4 linked regions of the Homo sapiens genome follow. The protein of the gene in region 1 purifies or fractionates together with the protein of each later gene. This does not show direct contact. Each region holds a gene or a part of one and is shown on either strand. Other genes may lie near its edges.

Region 1 (4,807 bases):
GGCTTTATTAAGATCCAAAACCTAAAGGCTTAAAAAAACAAGACTTGACACTGAGAGAAGGTAGATCTAATTTAGTGTTACAGAATCTTTATTTTGAAATTGTTGTACTTGTGAGCTGGCAACTTGTACTGACTTGATTTTTTTTCTTCCACTTAGCATGGAGGATGAAAAGGAAGATAGTAAAGTTATACCTACAGAATGTGCCATCAAGGTATTTAAAACAACCCTTAATGAATTTAAGAATCGTGACAAATATATTAAAGATGATTTCAGGTTTAAAGATCGCTTCAGTAAACTAAATCCACGTAAGATCATCCGCATGTGGGCAGAAAAAGAAATGCACAATCTCGCAAGGTAAAGAAAATATTGTGCTAGACGTAATCTTGGGTAAATACCTTTTTGCATTAGGATAAAAAAATCCATGCTTTCTTTTACATTCATTTATAGAAATAATGAAAGGCCAGGTGTATAACCTCGATTCATACTTTTAGGATGAAAAAGCCATTTTCTTTTTTCTTTCCTCAATGAAGCTTGAGGGAAATCTGGGCATTTTCTGCCTTAGACACTTTATCATATATCTAAATGCCATTTTTAAATTGCTTTTATCACGAAGTAAAACTTCCAGCATCCAATTAGGCTTAGCATAAAAAAATGGTTTCTTTTTTGTTTCAGAAAATGTTTGTTGCATTTAATTTGTTAATTTTGTGGGAGTAAGTTCTTACCAATCAAATTACATTTTGTTTTAATTTTTATACTTGTATCTGAATTTTCTAAGCAATTTATTTTCTATCAAAGAATTTGTTTTGTCAACCAAGAAATTCAGTAATAATCCTTCTCATTAAAAACCTTTCTATTATCTTAATTTATTAAAAGCTTAATTTTAGTTTGTTATTTTCTAAAGATATTTGCTTTCAAAAGTAATTATTCATATATATCAGTTACAAAATTCTTCTACTGAGAGTTCCCCACCAAAATAAGCCAGGCATGGTGTGCACGTGTACTCCCAGCTACTTGGGAGGCTGAGATGGGAGGACTGCTTGAACCTAGGAGTTCAAAACCAGCCTGGAAACGTTAGACTCCCAAGACCTTGTCTCAAAAAGAAAAAAAAATGTTTTTTCAATAAATTAATTAATTCCAGGTAGAATCATTTTCTAGAAGGTCTTGCTGTCCTCCAGTCTCTTTTCTGTACTCCTGAAATTCCTGCCTTTCTTAAAATTCTTCAACAGTTTTCCATAGTGGAGCTTGCCTGTCTTTGTAGCCTCAGCCCACATTGCCCTTCCTCCTACTCACAGATCCAGCTATGTTGATTGATATACATTCCCCAAATGGACTGTGCTCTTGAACACCTCCCTGCATTCCCTTGCACTGTCTTTATCTGGCTAATTCCTGTTCCCTACCTCTTCTTCTAATAAGCCATCCTTGGTGCTGTGTGCTCCTGTAGCTCCTACCCATACCTCTGCCAGTGCGTAATTGTAATTGTCTCTTGTCTGTCATTTCCATCAGTCCCTGAGCTCTCTATGGGCAGAGGCTGTGTTTTACTGTCTTTGTATTCCCACATCACCAGGGTAGAACATAGTGCCAGCTCATTGCAGGCCCTGATTAGATATTTATTGAATAAATGACATATTTTCTCTCCTTCTGATCTGTATATTCTGAATCATTTCTTTATGTATAGAATGCAGAGAGCTGGAATTCCTTGTCCAACAGTTGTACTACTGAAGAAACACATTTTAGTTATGTCTTTTATTGGCCATGATCAAGTTCCAGCCCCTAAATTAAAAGAAGTAAAGCTCAATAGTGAAGAAATGAAAGAAGCCTACTATCAAACTCTTCATGTAAGTTGTGCTTTTAAAAGAATTCACACACTACCTTTAAAAAATATTTCCTCTAAACTTTAAAAAAATTTCCTTAAAGAAGCCAGGCATGTTGGCTCACACTTGTAATCTAGAACTTTGGGAGGCTCAGGCAGTAGGATCACTTGAGCCCAGGAGTTTGAGACCAGCCTGGGCAACATGGTGAAACCCTGTCTCTACTAAAAATACAAAAAAATTAGCTGGGCGTGTGCCTGTAATCCCAGCTACTCGGGATGCTGAGGCAGGGGAATTGCTTGAACCAGGGAGGTAGAGGTTGCAGTGAACCAAGATTGCACCACTGCACTCCAGCCTGGGTGACAGAGTAAGACTCTGTCTCAAAAAAAAAAAAAAAAAATTAAAAATTAGCTGGGCACACACCTGTAGTCCCAGCTACTCGGGAGTCTAAGGTGGGAGGATCACTTGCACCCAGGAATTTAAGGCAGCAGTGAGCTATGATTGTGCCACTGCACCCCAGCCTGGGCAAGAAATAGAGCAAGACCCTATGTCTTAAAAAACAAACAAAAAAACCCAAGTTCCTTAGATAGTGCTATTTCAAGGTGCTATAACAAAGACAAGTTGAAGTTTGTGAAAGAATGTTAACACTGAAGAGTTGTTTTTCTATCAATATGTGTGTGTCTTAAATAGTTTTAGAAAACTTACAGACTTAACCAGGGAAGTCGTCATTGTTAGGATTAGTGACACAGTGCATGAAGCTATTTTTCACCAAACTTCATTAAATAAAATTTGCTGTTAGTACATTTAGCAAAGTGCCTCATTAGTTTGTGAGCTTTCATGAATGTTATAGTTTTTTGGGGCTTTTTTTTTTTTTTTTTTTTTTCAAATAAGAGACAGGGTCTCACTATGTTGCCCAGGCTGGTCTCGAACTCCTGGGCTCAAGTGATCCTCTTGCCTCAGCATCCCAAAGTGCTGGGATTACTGGTGTGAGCCACCACACCCAGCCATTGAATGTTACAGCTTTAACAGTGAAGGAAAGGAAGCAGGTCTGGTCTCATCATAAGAGAGTGATGATGAAAATTGAAAACAGTAGGGAGTGCAGGTGTTAAGTTGGAAGGCATGTTGGGAATCTCAAGGAAACTACATGCTTTGAAATAGCAACTGAATTCAATCTGAGGGCCTTCCAGGTTGAGACAATGCTCCTAATACTGCCATTATCCCTCTGTGTTTTAATTGAACACTGGAGAAACTTAATGTGCTACTTTATGCAATCTCCACATGAAGCTGTCATGTAATGCAGCCATTGATCTAGATATGGAAATTTTAATCCAAATTAATTTTTAAAGATATAGCTAGAAAGGTGATCCACCTTTCTCTGCCTCCAAAGGTAAACATTGAAAGGAAAATCAAGTATGTTTTTCTGGCCTCTTTGGGAGGTGGGGTGGCTGGGGAAGAGATTAAATAGTGATGAAACTTTTCTATTTAATTCTATTAAGGCTGGAAAACAAATGCATTAATGTTGATTTCTACTGTAAGACTTTGAGGGGGGCTGGGCGCAGTGCTCACGCCTGTAATCCCAGCACTCTGGGAGGCCGAGGTGGGCAGGTCACGAGGTCAGGAGATTGAGACCATCCTAACTAACATGGTGAAACCCCATCTCTACTAAAAAAAATTACAAAAAATTAGCCAGGAGTGGTGGTGGGTGCCTGTAGTCCGAGCTACTTGGGAGGCTGAGGCAGGAGAATGGTGTGAACCAGGGAGGCGGAGCTTGCAGTGAGCTGAGATCACACCACTGCACTCCAGCCTGGGCGACAGAGTGAGACTCTGTCTCCAAAAAAATAAAAAATAAAAAACTTTCAGGGGTGTCATCATCAATAATACCACTTAATTATTCATTTCCTAATGTGTGCCTTCCCTCTTCACAGTTGATGCGGCAGTTATATCATGAATGTACGCTTGTCCATGCTGACCTCAGTGAGTATAACATGCTGTGGCATGCTGGAAAGGTGAGGAGCACATTTTGTTAACATTCAGATTTAATTACTGTAAGTAAAATTTAAAATGTAAATACATCAGTTCATGTTCTGTATTGAAATAGGTCTGGTTGATCGATGTCAGTCAGTCAGTAGAACCTACCCACCCTCACGGCCTGGAGTTCTTGTTCCGGGACTGCAGGAATGTCTCGCAGGTAGACGTGTAAACCAATATGCCTTTTTTTGTTGGATGTAACAGCTGCAGGTATTTTTCTCACTCCTAAGATAAGTAAGAGGACCATATTCTTAGAAATTGAAGGAAGGGATACGGGCTGCTTTCAGGACAAGGATATAAAGATCAATTTGTCATATTTCATTTTGCAAGAATTTGATTCCATGTCTTACAGTTGGGTAAAATGTTCAAGGGGTGCCAGGTATGGTGGCTCACGCCTGTAATCCCAGCACTTTGGGAGGGTGAGGTGGGTGGATCATTTGATGTCAGAGGTTCAAGACCAGCCTGGCCAACATGGTGAAACCCCATCTCTACTAAAAATGCAAAATTAGCCGGGCATGGTGGCAGGCGCCTGTAATCCCAGCTACTTGGGAGGCTGAGGCAGGAGACTCACTTGAACCTGGGAGGCAGAGGCTGCAGTGAGCCAAGAACGTGCTACTGCACTCCACCCAGCCTGGGCAACAGAGTGAGGCTCCGTCTCAAAAAAAAAAAAAAAAAAATATGCCAGGTGCAGTGGTTCATGCCTGTAATCCCAGCACTTTGGGAGGCCAAGGTGGGTGGATCACCTGAGGTCAGGAGTTCAAGACCAGCCCGGCCAACATGGTGAAACGCTGTCTGTACGAAAAATACAAAAAAATTAGTTGGGTGCGGTAGCGTGTGCCTGTAATCCCAGCTAGTTGGGAGGCTGAGGAAGGAGAATCACTTGAGCCTGGGAATCGGAGGTTGCAGTGAGCCAAGGTTGCGCCATTGCACTCCAGCCTGGGTGACAGAGCAAGACTCCTTCTCCAAAAAAA
Region 2 (4,807 bases), on another chromosome or scaffold:
ACTTTGTAAGAAACATCAACATCACCAAAAAAAGCCCTATCAGTCACCAAATCTCATCCCCAGTCCTGTTTTATGAGCATAGATTACATAAAATATTTACAAATTAGCAGAAACAGTTCTAAGTAAAATGGTGGTTTGGTAGCATGTCACAAAGCAATGCATTCATAGCACAGCATGAATTAACACCTTGGTCCTCTAAATATATTCAAGGAAGAGAAAACTGGAAGGGAATAAGATACTTACCTGTGCAACATATGCAGAATCTGATATAAGGGAGAAACTGTCCATTTCTCCTCGGCTGATATAAGTTTGAAGTAAGATGTTTATTTTCCCATAACTATTCTCTACACCTCCAGGAGTGGAGAGTTCACAAAAATTGCTTAATAAGGTATCTAACTCCTCTATTTCCTCTTCTCTGACCTAGAAGAATCAATGTATTTATTGGAATTTTGGGGCTGATTTATTTAAATTTTTCACATTGAAATTAAATACATTGCATGTTTTTAAAGAGTTTCCATTTACTATAATGCAGCATTTTTCTTTCATAGAGTTAAATAACAATGATTTTTCCATAGGTAGCTAAAAAACTGCAATATGAAATGATCTTGAGGCTGATACAATTACATTTTATTATTCATCACCAATATTAAATTTGCCATTGACATATAAAAATTTGATATGCCAAAAAATTAAATCTTCTGACCTCACCATCCTTGAATTGATGAGATTTCATATTTTATTTGACCAGAGTAAAACCTCTGCCCAACTGGATTAGGGCAACTTGAATTATCTTCAAATGCATTCATTATAGTCATATATTTTTATATGGTATAATACATTCATAGCTTAAAGCCATGAAGTACTATGATTCAAAGTATTAAAGTTTTCACTGTTAATAAGATTAAATATTAATACAGGTACAGAAATACTCATATCTAAGGTTTGAATCATACAGGTACTTTTACATTTTCTTCAATGAGCCTTATATTGCAATAAACCAAAATCTTCATACTACATTCTTCAACAGTTTCATTACTGCAAAACCAATTTAAATTATTTGATGTGGAGTACAGAGAAAAGAATGATGTCAGGTATGATGTAATATTATAATCTAGGACAGTGGGTCTTATTGTTAAATGAAGAACATTGCTGATATTCCAAATGTGATGTGCCATACAGCTTATATGGTATTAATGAGAACCTTTTATAAATGAATGAATGCATACATGTTGTATGCATTTGATTCAAATTTCAAGAAATCTTACCTTAATTTGATCAAATTCTTCAGCTTTGGAGACTATGGCAAAGATATCACCTTCTGTTTTGTGAGCATCAAAGAGTTCATTAAAGGTCTACCAAAGTAAGTGTTATATTTGATTAAAATAAAAATATTTTAAATATTTTAAATTAAAAATGTGACTATAAATTACACATTTTAAAAGAAATTTGAGCCCTAGACAGTGCAGTTATAATGTCTGTGTTACAGTATTTAAAGTCACTGCTTTATAAACATCAACAAATTTATCAAAGACCAAAGAAAATTCCTAGAACATAATTAGCTAAGGAAGATCTTTAGCAGCAAAAAGATGGATGGTGAATAAAAGTTAATAACATCTACACTAGATACCTTTAAAAAGTTAATAAAATTCTGGTTTGTGCTTATTTTCAGCATGGCCATGTGGAAATCTGCACAATTCACGAATTCTAAGCTGATCATGTATCATAAAATTCAGAGATGTATATCTAGAAAATATGTAGTCTGAAAATTCTCAAAATATTACTAGTGAGGACATACAGAAAATTAGAAAACTGAGTTGAAAAAAATCAGTCAAAGGCCACATAGATTGAAGACAAATGCTAAAGAATGCCTAAAGTTCCTGCAAAAGAACAGCAAACAGGTTTAGGATATAGAGTGGTAGCAACACACTAGCAAGTGAACAAATTTAAAAAGTTACTTTGACAAAATGAGTGGATGTGAATAGGTGATGGAAGGAGTGAAAAGCCAGAGACAACGTGTTGGATTGATTTCAACCGGATCATAGTTCTGAGATAATATATGTTTAAAGGTTTTGAAGAAACCTAAAGTGCTATACAAATAGAAGGTTTATTTGGGGAAAGACGGGGGAAAGTTAGTAAGCACATGAGGTGTTTTCTGAAAACCGTTACATGTAAAAGCAAATGTGCCTTGACTATTTAGGCTTGGGTGTGTTTATTGCTTGGGATACACTCATTGAATAGGATGACAAGAGGTTCCTTAGTATCTGAAGTTTTATTTTTTTCTTGTCTTTACTGAGGGTATACTGTTGAATTCATATAAGTTAAATGGATTTTGTTCTATTATTTGCTTTCATTATTTTACATTAATAATATATTTTGAAGTCTAGAAAGTATTTGCATCTAAAATCAAACATATTTGCATTAGTATAATACCTCAATGGTGTTGTATTTAATATAGTAATGGCTGGCAGTTCTACCCAAATCAGTTGAGGAAAAATATCCAGTTCGCTCCTCAAAACGAATCATCTGAGCTTTGTCTAGTTTTCGTCCAACTTCAATGACCAACTGTTCTCGATGCTTTCTTAATGTTGGGTCAATCTATGGCAAAAAATATATAAACAGTTGAATAGTGCTTTAGAGAGTAACCATTTGCAAACATATATTTATTTATGGAAATTAAAACTTTTCTTAATGTTTTAGTTAGACTTTTTAATTACAATTTTTAAAGTACATTTTTCTACATTTAGGAAATAATTGAAAATATTTTATGCCATTAAATAAAGGAAGCTTAAAAATTCATTAAAATTATCAATGTGCATATTCTTTTCAGATACCAATATTTTGGAATCTAAAATTCTTATATGATCTTATGATCTTTAAAATCACAAAGATTAAAAATCAAATTTTAAAAACTCAATAATTGTCTTCTTTCTCCCATACTAAAGTAAATAGGGATTTTAAATTGTCAAATCATATTCCTACTTTATTATCAGTTATTTGGAGAAATGATAGCAAGAATGCTTTCCCTGTCAAAATCAAGATATATTTAGAACTGCAAAGTTATCCGGCCGGGCACAGTGGCTCACACCTGTAATCCCAGCACTTTGGGAGGCCAAGGTGGGCGGCTCACGAGGTCAGAAGTTTCAGAGCAGCCTGACAAACAAGGAGAAACCCCATCTCTACTAAAAATACAAAAATTAGCTGGGTATGGTGGTGCGCGCCTGTAATCCCAGCTACTCAGGCGGCTGAGGCAGGAGAATCACTTGAACCCAGGAGACAGAGGTTGCAGTGAGCCAAGATCATGCCACTGCACTCCAACCTGGGCGACAGAGCGAGGCTGGAGTGCAGTGGCGTGATCTTGGCTCACTTTACTTACTTTTTACTTTTATTATTATTATATGCAGATGGGAGAACCCATTCTAAAGTAAATAAAGTTGACAGTGAATTTTTGTATAGTTTTAAAACTATTACTTATCTAATACTTTTTCTAAGCAGAAATAATAAAACATAAGATATTAACAAATATTCTTGTTACTATAGTATTGTGTATAAATATATGTATGTACACATGCCAATTATTAAGGAACACTCTGTAGTCATGAGGAGTAAAGTGAAATATGACCTTTAATGGAGTAGGGGGAGTATTAAAACAATTTAGAAATCAATTAATGAGTTAACACTACTACCATTTGTTCTAACTTAGATATTTATGGCAGCTTATTTATGTACAAAATATAGCTAAAATAAATTTTAAAAATCAGGAAAATGGAGCAAAAGAATATCAACTGCAGGGAAGTAAGATGGAGTCAAGAGTTACATCAGCAAATACAAAAAGTCTTAAATGTTTGCTATGAGTGATAATATATGTATCAGGTTCAACTTATAAAACTATTTTATTAATCACCTATTACTAAACCATCAAAAATATGCTAAACTGTTTTATCTGTGTTAGTTCATAAGAGTTTTGTGGCCACAAATTTGTATTGAGTAATAACATTAAAACACACAAATCAAAAAAAAAAAAAAGGGTCAAGATTTTCTGACGTATAAAGGTACTATGTATCCAAAAGGTCTTTATACTGGAAAATGAAAGGCAAATGACTTTTGATTATAACCTAGTACTTTAAAGTCAATTGATGTATTTATCTTGTTCCAAAATTTGAGATGGCTTAGTCCGTAAAAATAAATTGTTTAGTTTTTGTTTTTCTTTACTCCTTCAAAACATTTTCATAGTGCCACTGGGTCTTCTCAAAATGCCCATATTTGTGATGGGAATAACTAGTGCCATATTCTTTAAATGTGTAAGGTTACAGGTTATAATGCAGTTATATGTTATAACAGAGCAATTTGGCTGTAAATGTAAACATTCATTTAAAGATTAGCACAAATTTCAACTGAGACAAAGAAAGGTAGGTGAGTCCCATCTAGAGTAAATCTAAGTATAAAAACCTAATAACGGCTTTAGATTTAACAGCCTCAGAACTAATTGCTGCTGCTGCTTTTCTTATTTTTCCTCCCGCAAGCCTTAAGTTTCAATTTTCCCATGGTAAAATCTACTGCATAGGGAAAGAAAAAAATAAAAGAAATAAAAATTTAAAAATTGGTAACTGCTTTGATAACACAATAGGATTCATATAAAAACTAAGTCATAGTAAATTAGGGGAAACTATAATTTTGAATAAAGTTCAACTTATACAAATTTTGACTTAATACTAGTTAATATCCATATGATCATTGTAGAATAATGTTTTCATTAGACAACAACTGGATTTTATCTGCAATTAGGACACATTTACAATATATGAAGCAG
Region 3 (4,807 bases), on another chromosome or scaffold:
GATTCCCTGCAGACAACAGAGACTTGTGTGAGGAGCCAGGTGGGTAAGAGGTCCGCTGTGCAGAGCAGGTGAGGGATGTGGACGGAGGGGCAGCGTGGGTGGGCTACCCGCTGCCTGCTGGCCTGGTTTGCTGCTAGCATCTGGGAACAACACCTCACTTCTGCTTTGCGGGGACTATGCTTTGCCTGTGGTTTACATTCTTGGGGGACAGCCTCAGGGGAATCCTGTCCACTTCTTAGCTCGGAGAAGGGACACGAGACCCTGACCTTGTCACACTCTCCTTGGACCTTGGGTGTAACCTGCACACAGCCTGCTGAAAGCCATGGAAGGCACCAGGCAGTCAGAAGTCCTGCCTCTACCCCAAACCTGCTGTACGACTCAGGCCATCCTTTCACCTGAGCCTCAGTTTCCCCATCTGCACAATAAAGAAGTGGAACCACGGTCGTGGTTTTCAAACTTGCTTCCCATGGAACCCCAGGGCTCTGTGGTGGGGTCAGGGGAGCTGCGGGCCCTCTTGCTCACTACAACGAGAGCAGCCCTGCTGTCACTGGAGTCCTGGGTTTGGGGTTCTAAAAGGGGTTTCCATGGCTAAAAATTTATGAAAACCACAGATCCCAAAGGTACCTTGAGGTTTAAGGTTTAAAGCTCCTTTCTTTTGGCACCATCTGTAATACGGCCTGAGGCTGTTTTCTTGGGGGGTGGGGAAGGGGTCCAGCTTGGGGCCTTGAGGGATGAGACCACCCTTGGGGACCCGGCCTGAGCCATCCAGGGCCCCAACTGTGGGAAGTGGGGCCCTGTCCCCCATCACCAAGGACCTGGGCCCTCTGTGGGGGTGACCAGGATCCTTCTAAGCCATGTGGGGTAGGGGGTGGCCCGGGGACTCAGGGAAGTGCCAAGGGACGAGGGCTGAGCAGACAGACTCCTGGGCCGGAGCCCCACCCTCCCTGGCTGGCAGGGGCTCACCTTGGGCTTCTTGTAGAAGCCAGACAGGTACCACCGCAGCACCAGCTTCATGCGGCTGTAGGCATCCTCCTCCACCGCAGCCCTGCCATGGGGCAGGAGAACGCTGACCCCAGCTCCGGGGGCCGTGGGCCACCCTCCCTTTCCCTGACCCTTCCCTCCTACCATCCCGACCTCCAACCACTCAGCTGGAAACAGGCCACTTGGCCCAGGCGCTCTGGTCACCCCCAAGCAGGATAATTTTCTCTGGGGAAGTGGGTTCTTCTAATCAGAAAGTGCCAGGGCTGCTCCCACGCTGGGGCAGAGAGGACACTGCTGACCTGGGCTGCCAGGGTGCCCCTGTCTCCAGGAAGCCTCCCTGCCCATGCTCTTGTTCCCACCTGCTCCCTCTGCCTGGCTCCTGAGCCTGCAGCCCCCTTCCTGCCTCTGTTGCCCCCTTCCAGTCTCTGCAGCCCCCTTCCAGCCTGCGTACCCCCTTCCAGGCTCTGCTGCCCCTTCCTGCCTCTGCAACCCTCTTCCAGCTCTGCAGCCCCCTTCCAGCCTCTGCAGTCCCTTCCTGCCTCTGCAGCCCTCTTCCTGCCTGCGCAGCCCCCTTCCAGCCTCTGCAGCCCCTTTCCAGTCTGCGCAGCCCCCTTCCTGCCTCTGTAGCCCCATTCCTGCCTCTGCAGCCCCCTTCCTGCCTCTGCAGCCCATCCCATCCAGCTCGAGGGTGCAGGGCTCAGGGTGCATGGCAAGTGCTTGGGACTGACCCCCCTCTCACCACGGATGGCTGGCTCCTCCCAGGCCCATCTTGGAGACAGGGCCCCCTGGGAGGCTACAGCTGCAGAAACAGTGGGCTGAGATCAGCCATGGGATTCTCTGGAAGCCCCCACAGGGCAGGTAGGGGCTGGGGGTGCTGCAGGGTCTCATGCAGATGCAGGACGAGGTGTGGGGTGCCCCTCCCGGCATGGCGCGCACCTGGAGAGCAGGTCTGCGTGGTAGTAGTAGTCGGAGAGCTTGTTCAGGAAGGAGCGCGGCTCCAGTACGAACGTGGGTAGCACCACGCGGGACAGGTCCATGCCTGGCCGTAGCTGCTTCAGCAGGGTCCACATCAGACTCTTGTTCTCCTCTGACACTGTCTCCACCTGGGACGCCTCGCCCAGCTGCAGCAGACAGGCTGCAGTCAGGCCCTGCCCGGAAGAGCCGGGAGGAAGGGGTGGCGGGACAGTGGCAGCTCTGGCTGGAGGAGGCTGTACCTGCCACCCCTTAGGGTGTAAACCCCTGACCTGGCCTCCATGGCCTCATGAGGCTGACTCAGCCCCATCAGATGTGAACTCTTCCCAATGCGTCTCCACCCCACCCCTGGAGCACCCGCAGCCCAGGTCCAGGCCCGCTCCTGTCTCTGCTCCTTGCCCAGGGACCCCATGCCCTGCCCTCCTCAAAGTCCAGGGTGCAGCCTCCCAACACCTGCTGTTGAAACCTGTCTGTGCATCGTGGGACCCTGGGCCCAGGGAACAGAGAGACTGCAGCCCACCCTGTCTTCACAGCTGCCAGGGGAGGCAGGGATTTGGCCTGCTCTTCCATTTTTTAAAAAAGGTTATTGTAACATTTCTTTTTCTGTTTTTGAACCACTTTATTGAGGTCTGATTGATATACAGAAGCCTTCAGATATTGAATGTGGACAACTGGGTGAGTTTGGAGGTGAGCCTGCTCCTGCAAAACCGACACGGGCATGTGAACTCACCCCTCACTTCCGAAGCCTGTGTGCCCCTCACGAAGGCCCCCTCATCTCTTCCTTTTCTGAGACATCTAACCCTCACCACAGCTCCAGAATACATGACTTGGGGTGGCGGGGCTCCCCTTACTCACTCCAGACTTGCACCTCACCGCAGCCCCAGGGAACGGGGACCCTGGTCCTCCCCCTCCACAGAGGGGACAAGTGACTTGTCCAAGGTCACACGGCTGCTATGCGGCAGAGGTCAGATCTGAACTCAGGGCTCTCTGCATTTTTAGCCCAACGGCAGCTGCCCCAGGGAGCGGGCAAGATGGAGTGTGGCCTGTGAGTCCTGCATCAGGATCTCATCCCCGCTGCTGGGACTCCTCAGGCAAATGGCTTCGCCTCTCTGTGCACGCATGGCCACGGACAGATCCTGGTGGCACTGGCCCAGTGGACAGTGTGTGTGGACACCCAGGAGCCATGTCTGACCCCATGAGGGGTCATGGGGAGCCCAGTGCTGTAGCTTTGGGGCTTGGAAATCATGGGTAGCTTCGGCTGTCAGGAATCCTGCTCTGTCCATGTGCTCCCGTCCCGTCCTCCTTAACCCTCTCCACCAGGCTTCTGCCGTCTTCTCTACTGAGACTGTCTTGCCGTAGGTCCCCACCACTCCTCACTGGTCCAGCAGCCATCCCTGCTTCTCATCCTGCCCCACCTCTCGGACCAGCTGGCTCTGAGACACCTGGGCTCCTGGATCCTCCCACCTCCCTGCCCCACCTCTGTGAAGCCTTATCTGTGCTCGGCCTCTGAAGGTTGGGTGCCCGGGCCCCTTGGCTGCCCGCTCCATGCCCTCTGCCCGGAGCCCCAGGCTCGCACCTGCAGCAGCCCGCTCTGCCTGGCTCACAGCAGCGTCGCTCATCACCATCTGGCTGAGATCTACCCAATCCAACTTCCGAAATACCCTGAGTCTGCCCACTTCTCCCTTCTCCATCACAGCTGGGTCCAGGGTGTCCTCAGCTTTCTCCTAACAATGGGTCTTCCCTACGGGTGGCCCAGTGTCCACCCCCGCCCCTCGGCTGTCCCGAGGCCCTTGCCTAACCCGCCGGTGGCTTCCCCAATACTCTCAGCCTGAGGCCCCCAGGGCCCTCGGTCCACTCCCCATAGGCCCATCCTAACCTTCCCATCCCCGCACAGGAGCCTGAGCTCTGTGGGAACAGCAGCCCGCAGGGAGGCCATGGTGTTCCACTGAACACAAGGATTTCACGGACCACGGAGGAGCCCCCTCTGTCCCTGTGCAGAGCAAGATGCGAACACGACGCTGTCCAAACAACAGCAAGGAACGAATTCCCCTTTCCTGCTGAAACCGGGACTGCCCCTTGCCCTCAGTGACAGCCACGGCCTTGCTCTTGTCTCGCCTCCCGGGTGAGAATGACAAGATCCCAGATCACAGAGCCCCCCGTTCCTGACAGCCCCCACCCCAGAGCGCAGCCCCCACCCCAGAGCCCGGCTTCCTCAGCCTGCACCCGTCACCCAGCGGAAGCTTAGATCCTGTGATTCCTTCCGGACTCCCCTTCCTGAGGCGCCCCACGGTGCCCAGGGCCACGTGAGTTCTCTCCAGCTGCGGGGAGTCAGCTGCCCTGGCTGTTCATCTGCAGGCATGCTCTGGGGACACTGCTGCCCACCGCCTGCTGCCTCCCTTGAGCTCGTGCGCTGGTGGTCCTTCTTCTTGGAACGCCATCCTCCCTCCCGTCACTCACGTCTTCAGAAAGAGCCCATGGCCCGGTTTGCCTCCCTCACCTGCTCCCCAGCCTCCTCTTGTGTTTGTGGGTTTATCATCTATGTTTCCTGCTGCCCATACACTGGGGGCCCAGAGCCCAGGTCTGTCTCATTCATGGCTCTCCCAGGGCCCCAGGAGAGCACCAGGTGTGCAGGTGCCTGTGAGCATGGGACTCAGGTCCACACGCCCTCCTCTGCGCTCCTCCAGGAAGTGGGGCCGCCCAGCAGATGGGGTCAAGGGCCCCTCTTGAGCCTCCTGTTCTCCCATCAGCGCATTCCAGCCCAAGGAGGGAGTTGCCTGTCTGCAGCAAACCCCTGCCCGATCCCCGCATCTGCATGCCAGCCAGCCAGCCAGCCAGCGGGGCAGCCTCTTTGGAA
Region 4 (4,807 bases), on another chromosome or scaffold:
AGGAAAATTCCATACAATAAATAGTGGGGTTGAGATTTAGGGATGGAGGGGAGAACGATAATATGAAAAATATAATGCAAGAAAAAGAGGGGAGAAGAAAAGCAACTAAAATCTCCGGGAAATACAAAACCTACACAATGAAGTAGTGATTCAAATATGGAACAACTAATCCAAATTAGAACAACTAGTCAAAATCAGAATCAGAAAACAGTGGGTTTCATGAAGATAAATGAAATGGGTTGTAAGCAATATAAAGAAAGATTGAGATGCTAATACCTTTTTTGAAAGGCTTAAGATTCTTCTCTCTAGTTTTTTTTTTAAGTACCAGAAACTCAAGGAAAAACAAAAAGTTATTTCAAAGTTATAATCCACATATGAAGCAAACTAAAATAGACACAATTTTGAGCAACTGGTGGCATTCAGGAAAGGGTTACCTATTTGAACATCTCTTGTGAGTAGCATGGGATCATGACACTGGAAATACAGGGAAGGAAACAGCTCTGCAGTGAACAATATTTCCCCACTCATAATAGTGCAAAATTCCCTATTCACAATAATGCAAAAACTCAATGTTAATTTTCAACAATTGGCATCAACCTGCAAATAGAGCATGGAAAACTTAATTTGATGACAGAATGGATAAAAATGTGATCAATCTTGACAGTGTCAAAGTAAAACTATAGCCAGCTCAAGTTGGGAGTCAGAAAGGAGAAGAGAATGGAGAGGAAAAAAAAGGTAGGGAATGGGTGGAGAACAGGTGATTACTACTTTTCATTATAAATCCTTTGGTTCCTCAGGCATTATTTTAAATAAAAATATTTTTAAATTTTTTTAGGAGAAAGTTGTTACCATTGGCTAATGCTACAAAGGGGTCAAGTGAGAAGGAGTTAGATTTGGCCTGTAAGATCATGGTGACAATGGAAAGGACCATTTCAGCGGCCTATAGGAATGGAAATCAGAGTACAGTGGGCTGAGGAATGAATGGGAAATAAAGACCTGAAGAGAACAATTCTACCTGCAGAATGCTAAGGACAGGAGAGGAGAGGAGAAAGGTTGCTAATAGAAGGGATTAAAAGTAAACAGAAGGTTGCTGCTGCTATTTTTATTTATATAGAAAAGACTTGGGCATAGTTTTTGATTGAGGTGAAAAGGTGATGAAATCCAGAAAACAGGATGAGGAATCAAACTTGGACAAAAGAAAGGGTATCTATCATTTCGAAATAAGAAGAAATGAGGTAGGGGTAGACTAGAGGAGGAGGCAAAAAACTGGCAGGATCACAGAGAGCTTCTGTCCTCTAAAGTGATCAAAGCAAGAGCTAGAAAAGCCTACAGAGCTGGCGATTTCAGAGAGCAGAACAAGAAAACCAACAAGGATTGATTATTGGGTAAATGGACTAAGCTGACAGACGAGTAGTATGGTTGAAAGCATATTTACATTTGAAAATCATTTTATTTTGCCTCATTTGTTGGTTGAATTATTCTTCATGAGAATCTTTTAAGGTAACCTGGTATCTGGATCTAAAAGACTATCTCGGGAGAACAATCAAGGAAAACAAAGTTTTGCTTATTTACACAAGGTCCTACAGCAAGTTACTATCAAGGTAGTAACAACAGTAAGACAGCTGTGTGCCATCTCATTCTGCTCATTTGAGACCCAAACACTTCTAAACAATAGCAACCTATTTCAATCAACCAGCATTTATTAAGATAACATATGCAAGTCTCACAATCCTGCAGAGGAAGTACAATGACCCCTACTTTACAGATATTGAATAAAGAGAGATTCAGTGTCTTGCCTAAAGTAACTGAGCCAAGATCCTAGCCCAAAGTTGTTAGATTCCAAAGCATATATGCCACGTGTAAAGCACATGCATTAAAACCAAATCTGAAGTGTGTTTTGGCCATTCTCAGTCCACTGCAAGTCCATTTGGAAAAAAATCAGATAGGAGAATTTTGAATACATGAAAATTAGCTGAGATTTAATTCAGTGATCCAAACCTGGGTGATCAATATTAAAATGTAAGTGCCAAAATCAGTGCTTTAAATTTTGGGAAAAATCTAATAGCATTCTCTTCATTATGAATTATGAATTAAGACCACTACACTCAGCATCCTAATTCTAAAACTATTCTTTCACCTGTGTTCTCTTTCTCTAATCAATCTAATTCATGGTAGGTTGCTATCTGGCCACTAACTATTACAAATAGAAAGCCATGTTTATGACAAATTTTATAAATGTACTTTGAGTAAGTAGATCTTTTTAAATATATACATGCAAATTAGCAAATAAACTGGTGACTTTAAACTGTGGATGCCTTAGCAAAATTCATCCGTGCTTTTTGCTTTTCTTTATTTCTGTTAATAACCTTCCCTGCTAAAGCAATTCTTCCTCTGGGCATTTATGCTGATGAAACAGTGGTATGTTACCCCATGCCAGCCTTGCCCTAAGTAACCTGAAGCCTGCAGATAGACTTTAATAAAATGAAAATATGTTTCTCCTCCAAAGATTGGATTTTAAATTAAGTTATATCCAAAGCCCTAATTTTAAGAATATAATATTTGATGGCTTCATTAAAAATAAAACAATAGCTAATGATGTTTTGAAGCCAACTGACCAGTTTTTAAAAGTCCTTGGAATAAAACTAAATCTGTGATGACTACAGATACACATGGGTCACTGCTAAGGTAGCCCCAGCTTGGGAACACTGGGATGTCAGGAAAAAATGCTAGTGAGCTTAAAGGGAAGTATTTATTGGGCAGTTTCCACTGCGTGTCCTGGATTACTGGCACATGATACAGTCCGGCTCTAGTGTAACCACCATTGTTTACAATACCCGAGGCAATTTGAAACTCCACGATTTCAACAATGGCATCAACTGACTAAAAAGTTTTGAGTAATGTAATCACAGTGATTTATCACTTCACACAAATGTGTTTCTAGCTCATAAACAGGCTACCCGTGACCCATTTTATCTCACACATAACTGAAATAATGAAGGTACAGCTTGGTAATGCTCTGTATTAAAAATTAGTAAGTTTTTAGTCTTGAAATAAAATTTTACATCCATCATCTCATTTAATCCTAAACCACTTTATTAGTCTACAATCATTGGCATTCTACTTATTCCTGTGCTTGGTAAGCCTTACTCATTGGTCTTATCCTTCTCTTTTTTGTGTGTTTTTTGTTGTTGTCTTTGTTTGCTGGAGTGCAGTGGCATGATTATAGCTCACTGCTGCCTCAATCTCCCAGGCTCAAGTGAGCCTCCTGTCTCAGCCTCACGAGTAGCTGGGACTACAAGTGTCTGCCACTATGCCCAGCTAATTTCCTTGTATTTTTGTAGAGACAGGGTCTTGTTATGCTGTCCATGCTGGTCTTGAACTCCTGAACGCAAACTATCTTCCCGCCTCAGCCTCCCAAAGTGCTAGAATTACAGGTGTGAGGCACCACACCTGGCCTGGTCTTAGCCTTGTCTTCAGTAATCTTTCTTTTATTACTGCTTATTCATGTACACCCTCTGATGCATCTTTTTGGCTAACATTTCTACGCTTTCCTTCTTTGGTAGCTCACCCACTTCTAGAGTTATGTTCACACTCTGTTTATTATTCTGATCTACACTTTGCACTATCCACTCTCATCTTGACCATTTCTATCTTATTGAAATCCAGATTTCACTTCTAAGATTACCTTTCTTCTATGTTACCCTAACATAATTGCTCTGTATTTTTACACATGAACTGCTTTGCCTTAGTTGTCTGTTAAAACCTTCTCTCTTTAAGAGTTACCAATAACATCAGTCTCATTCGAATCTTTGCTTCTGAAGTCTTAGCAATATACTTTATTATACCCAAACTTTTCATTTTCTGTAAGCTCCTACTTTCTGATTACTTGCTTGCCTCTTTTCTTTCCCATCTTTACCCTGGTTTTTAGCTGCTTAAATTGTCCCATTACATCCTGTTCTCCTTCAACCTTTCCACTTAAAAATTCTGATTTTTGAGAAATTTACCTAAATTGTATTTCCCTTTTCTTATATTTTCTAATTTATTTATTCACTGTATCACTGAGGAAACTGAAATTAAGTATAATTACTAATCTTGTCAACTACATAGTTTAGAACATACGCAAAAATGTAAAATAAAAGAAAAAAACAAATGTTGATTCTGCTTATCTAGTTTTAGCCTTATAATCCAAAGACCTTGCATCAAACTGAATCTTCTCTATGTATCATCAGTAGCACCTTTCAAAGTCCATGAAGTCAAAAAGTTTTATTAGGAGAAAAAAAGAAATAAGGTATATGTATAATCCATGGACATGTTAAAATTACACACTGCCCGAGAGTTTTCCCTCATAAAAGTAAACAACTCTTCCTTAAAAGGGAATTATAGGCTGGGTGCGGTAGGTCACTCACGCCTGTAATCCCAGCGCTTTGGGAGGCTGAATCTAGCCAACATGGCAAACCTCCATCTCTACCAAAAATACAAAAATTAGCTGGGTGTGCTGGTGTGTGCCTGTAATCCCAGCTACTCGAGAGGGTGAGGCATGAGAATCGCTTGAACCCCGGAGACAGGGGCTGCAGTGAGCCAAGATCGCGCCACTGCACTCCAGCCTGGGCAACAGAGCGAGACTCTGTCTCAAAAAAAAATAAATAAATAAAGATAATTATATATGTGTATAGCATACAAGTGGGTTTGCCCCCAAGTTAATGATTTGTTAGGGGCTTTATATGGCTAATAATTAAACCTTTAGAACCCTGGCTTCTTTTTTCAAAGTGAGTCTTAGGCTATAAAACTGAACATTCCGTAGGAATAA

What was found. Proteins that work in one complex are often made in the same cells at the same time.
Region 2: the proteins of RIOK3 (region 1) and ASCC3 purify together in Homo sapiens (affinity purification with mass spectrometry; one large-scale study listed by BioGRID and IntAct). This does not show direct contact.
Region 3: the proteins of RIOK3 (region 1) and OSBPL5 purify together in Homo sapiens (affinity purification with mass spectrometry; one large-scale study listed by BioGRID and IntAct). This does not show direct contact.
Region 4: the proteins of RIOK3 (region 1) and ZMAT3 purify together in Homo sapiens (affinity purification with mass spectrometry; one large-scale study listed by BioGRID and IntAct). This does not show direct contact.

What each region holds. Positions count from the first base shown.
Region 1 is NC_000018.10:23,473,273-23,478,079, forward strand, and holds part of RIOK3 (serine/threonine-protein kinase RIO3), read left to right. Parts: intron 1-156; coding exon 157-354; intron 355-1,675; coding exon 1,676-1,835; intron 1,836-3,733; coding exon 3,734-3,814; intron 3,815-3,884; exon of another isoform or gene 3,885-3,906; coding exon 3,907-3,996; intron 3,997-4,807.
Region 2 is NC_000006.12:100,650,295-100,655,101, forward strand, and holds part of ASCC3 (activating signal cointegrator 1 complex subunit 3), read right to left. Parts: intron 2,596-4,807; coding exon 2,431-2,595; intron 1,353-2,430; coding exon 1,266-1,352; intron 421-1,265; coding exon 244-420; intron 1-243. UniProt on the Homo sapiens protein: ATPase involved both in DNA repair and rescue of stalled ribosomes. 3'-5' DNA helicase involved in repair of alkylated DNA: promotes DNA unwinding to generate single-stranded substrate needed for ALKBH3, enabling ALKBH3 to process alkylated N3-methylcytosine (3mC) within double-stranded regions.
Region 3 is NC_000011.10:3,102,276-3,107,082, forward strand, and holds part of OSBPL5 (oxysterol-binding protein-related protein 5), read right to left. Parts: intron 2,103-4,807; coding exon 1,918-2,102; intron 1,046-1,917; coding exon 964-1,045; intron 7-963; coding exon 1-6. UniProt on the Homo sapiens protein: Lipid transporter involved in lipid countertransport between the endoplasmic reticulum and the plasma membrane: specifically exchanges phosphatidylserine with phosphatidylinositol 4-phosphate (PI4P), delivering phosphatidylserine to the plasma membrane in exchange for PI4P, which is degraded by the SAC1/SACM1L phosphatase in the endoplasmic reticulum.
Region 4 is NC_000003.12:179,061,275-179,066,081, forward strand, and holds part of ZMAT3 (zinc finger matrin-type protein 3), read right to left. Parts: intron 1-4,807. UniProt on the Homo sapiens protein: Acts as a bona fide target gene of p53/TP53. May play a role in the TP53-dependent growth regulatory pathway. May contribute to TP53-mediated apoptosis by regulation of TP53 expression and translocation to the nucleus and nucleolus.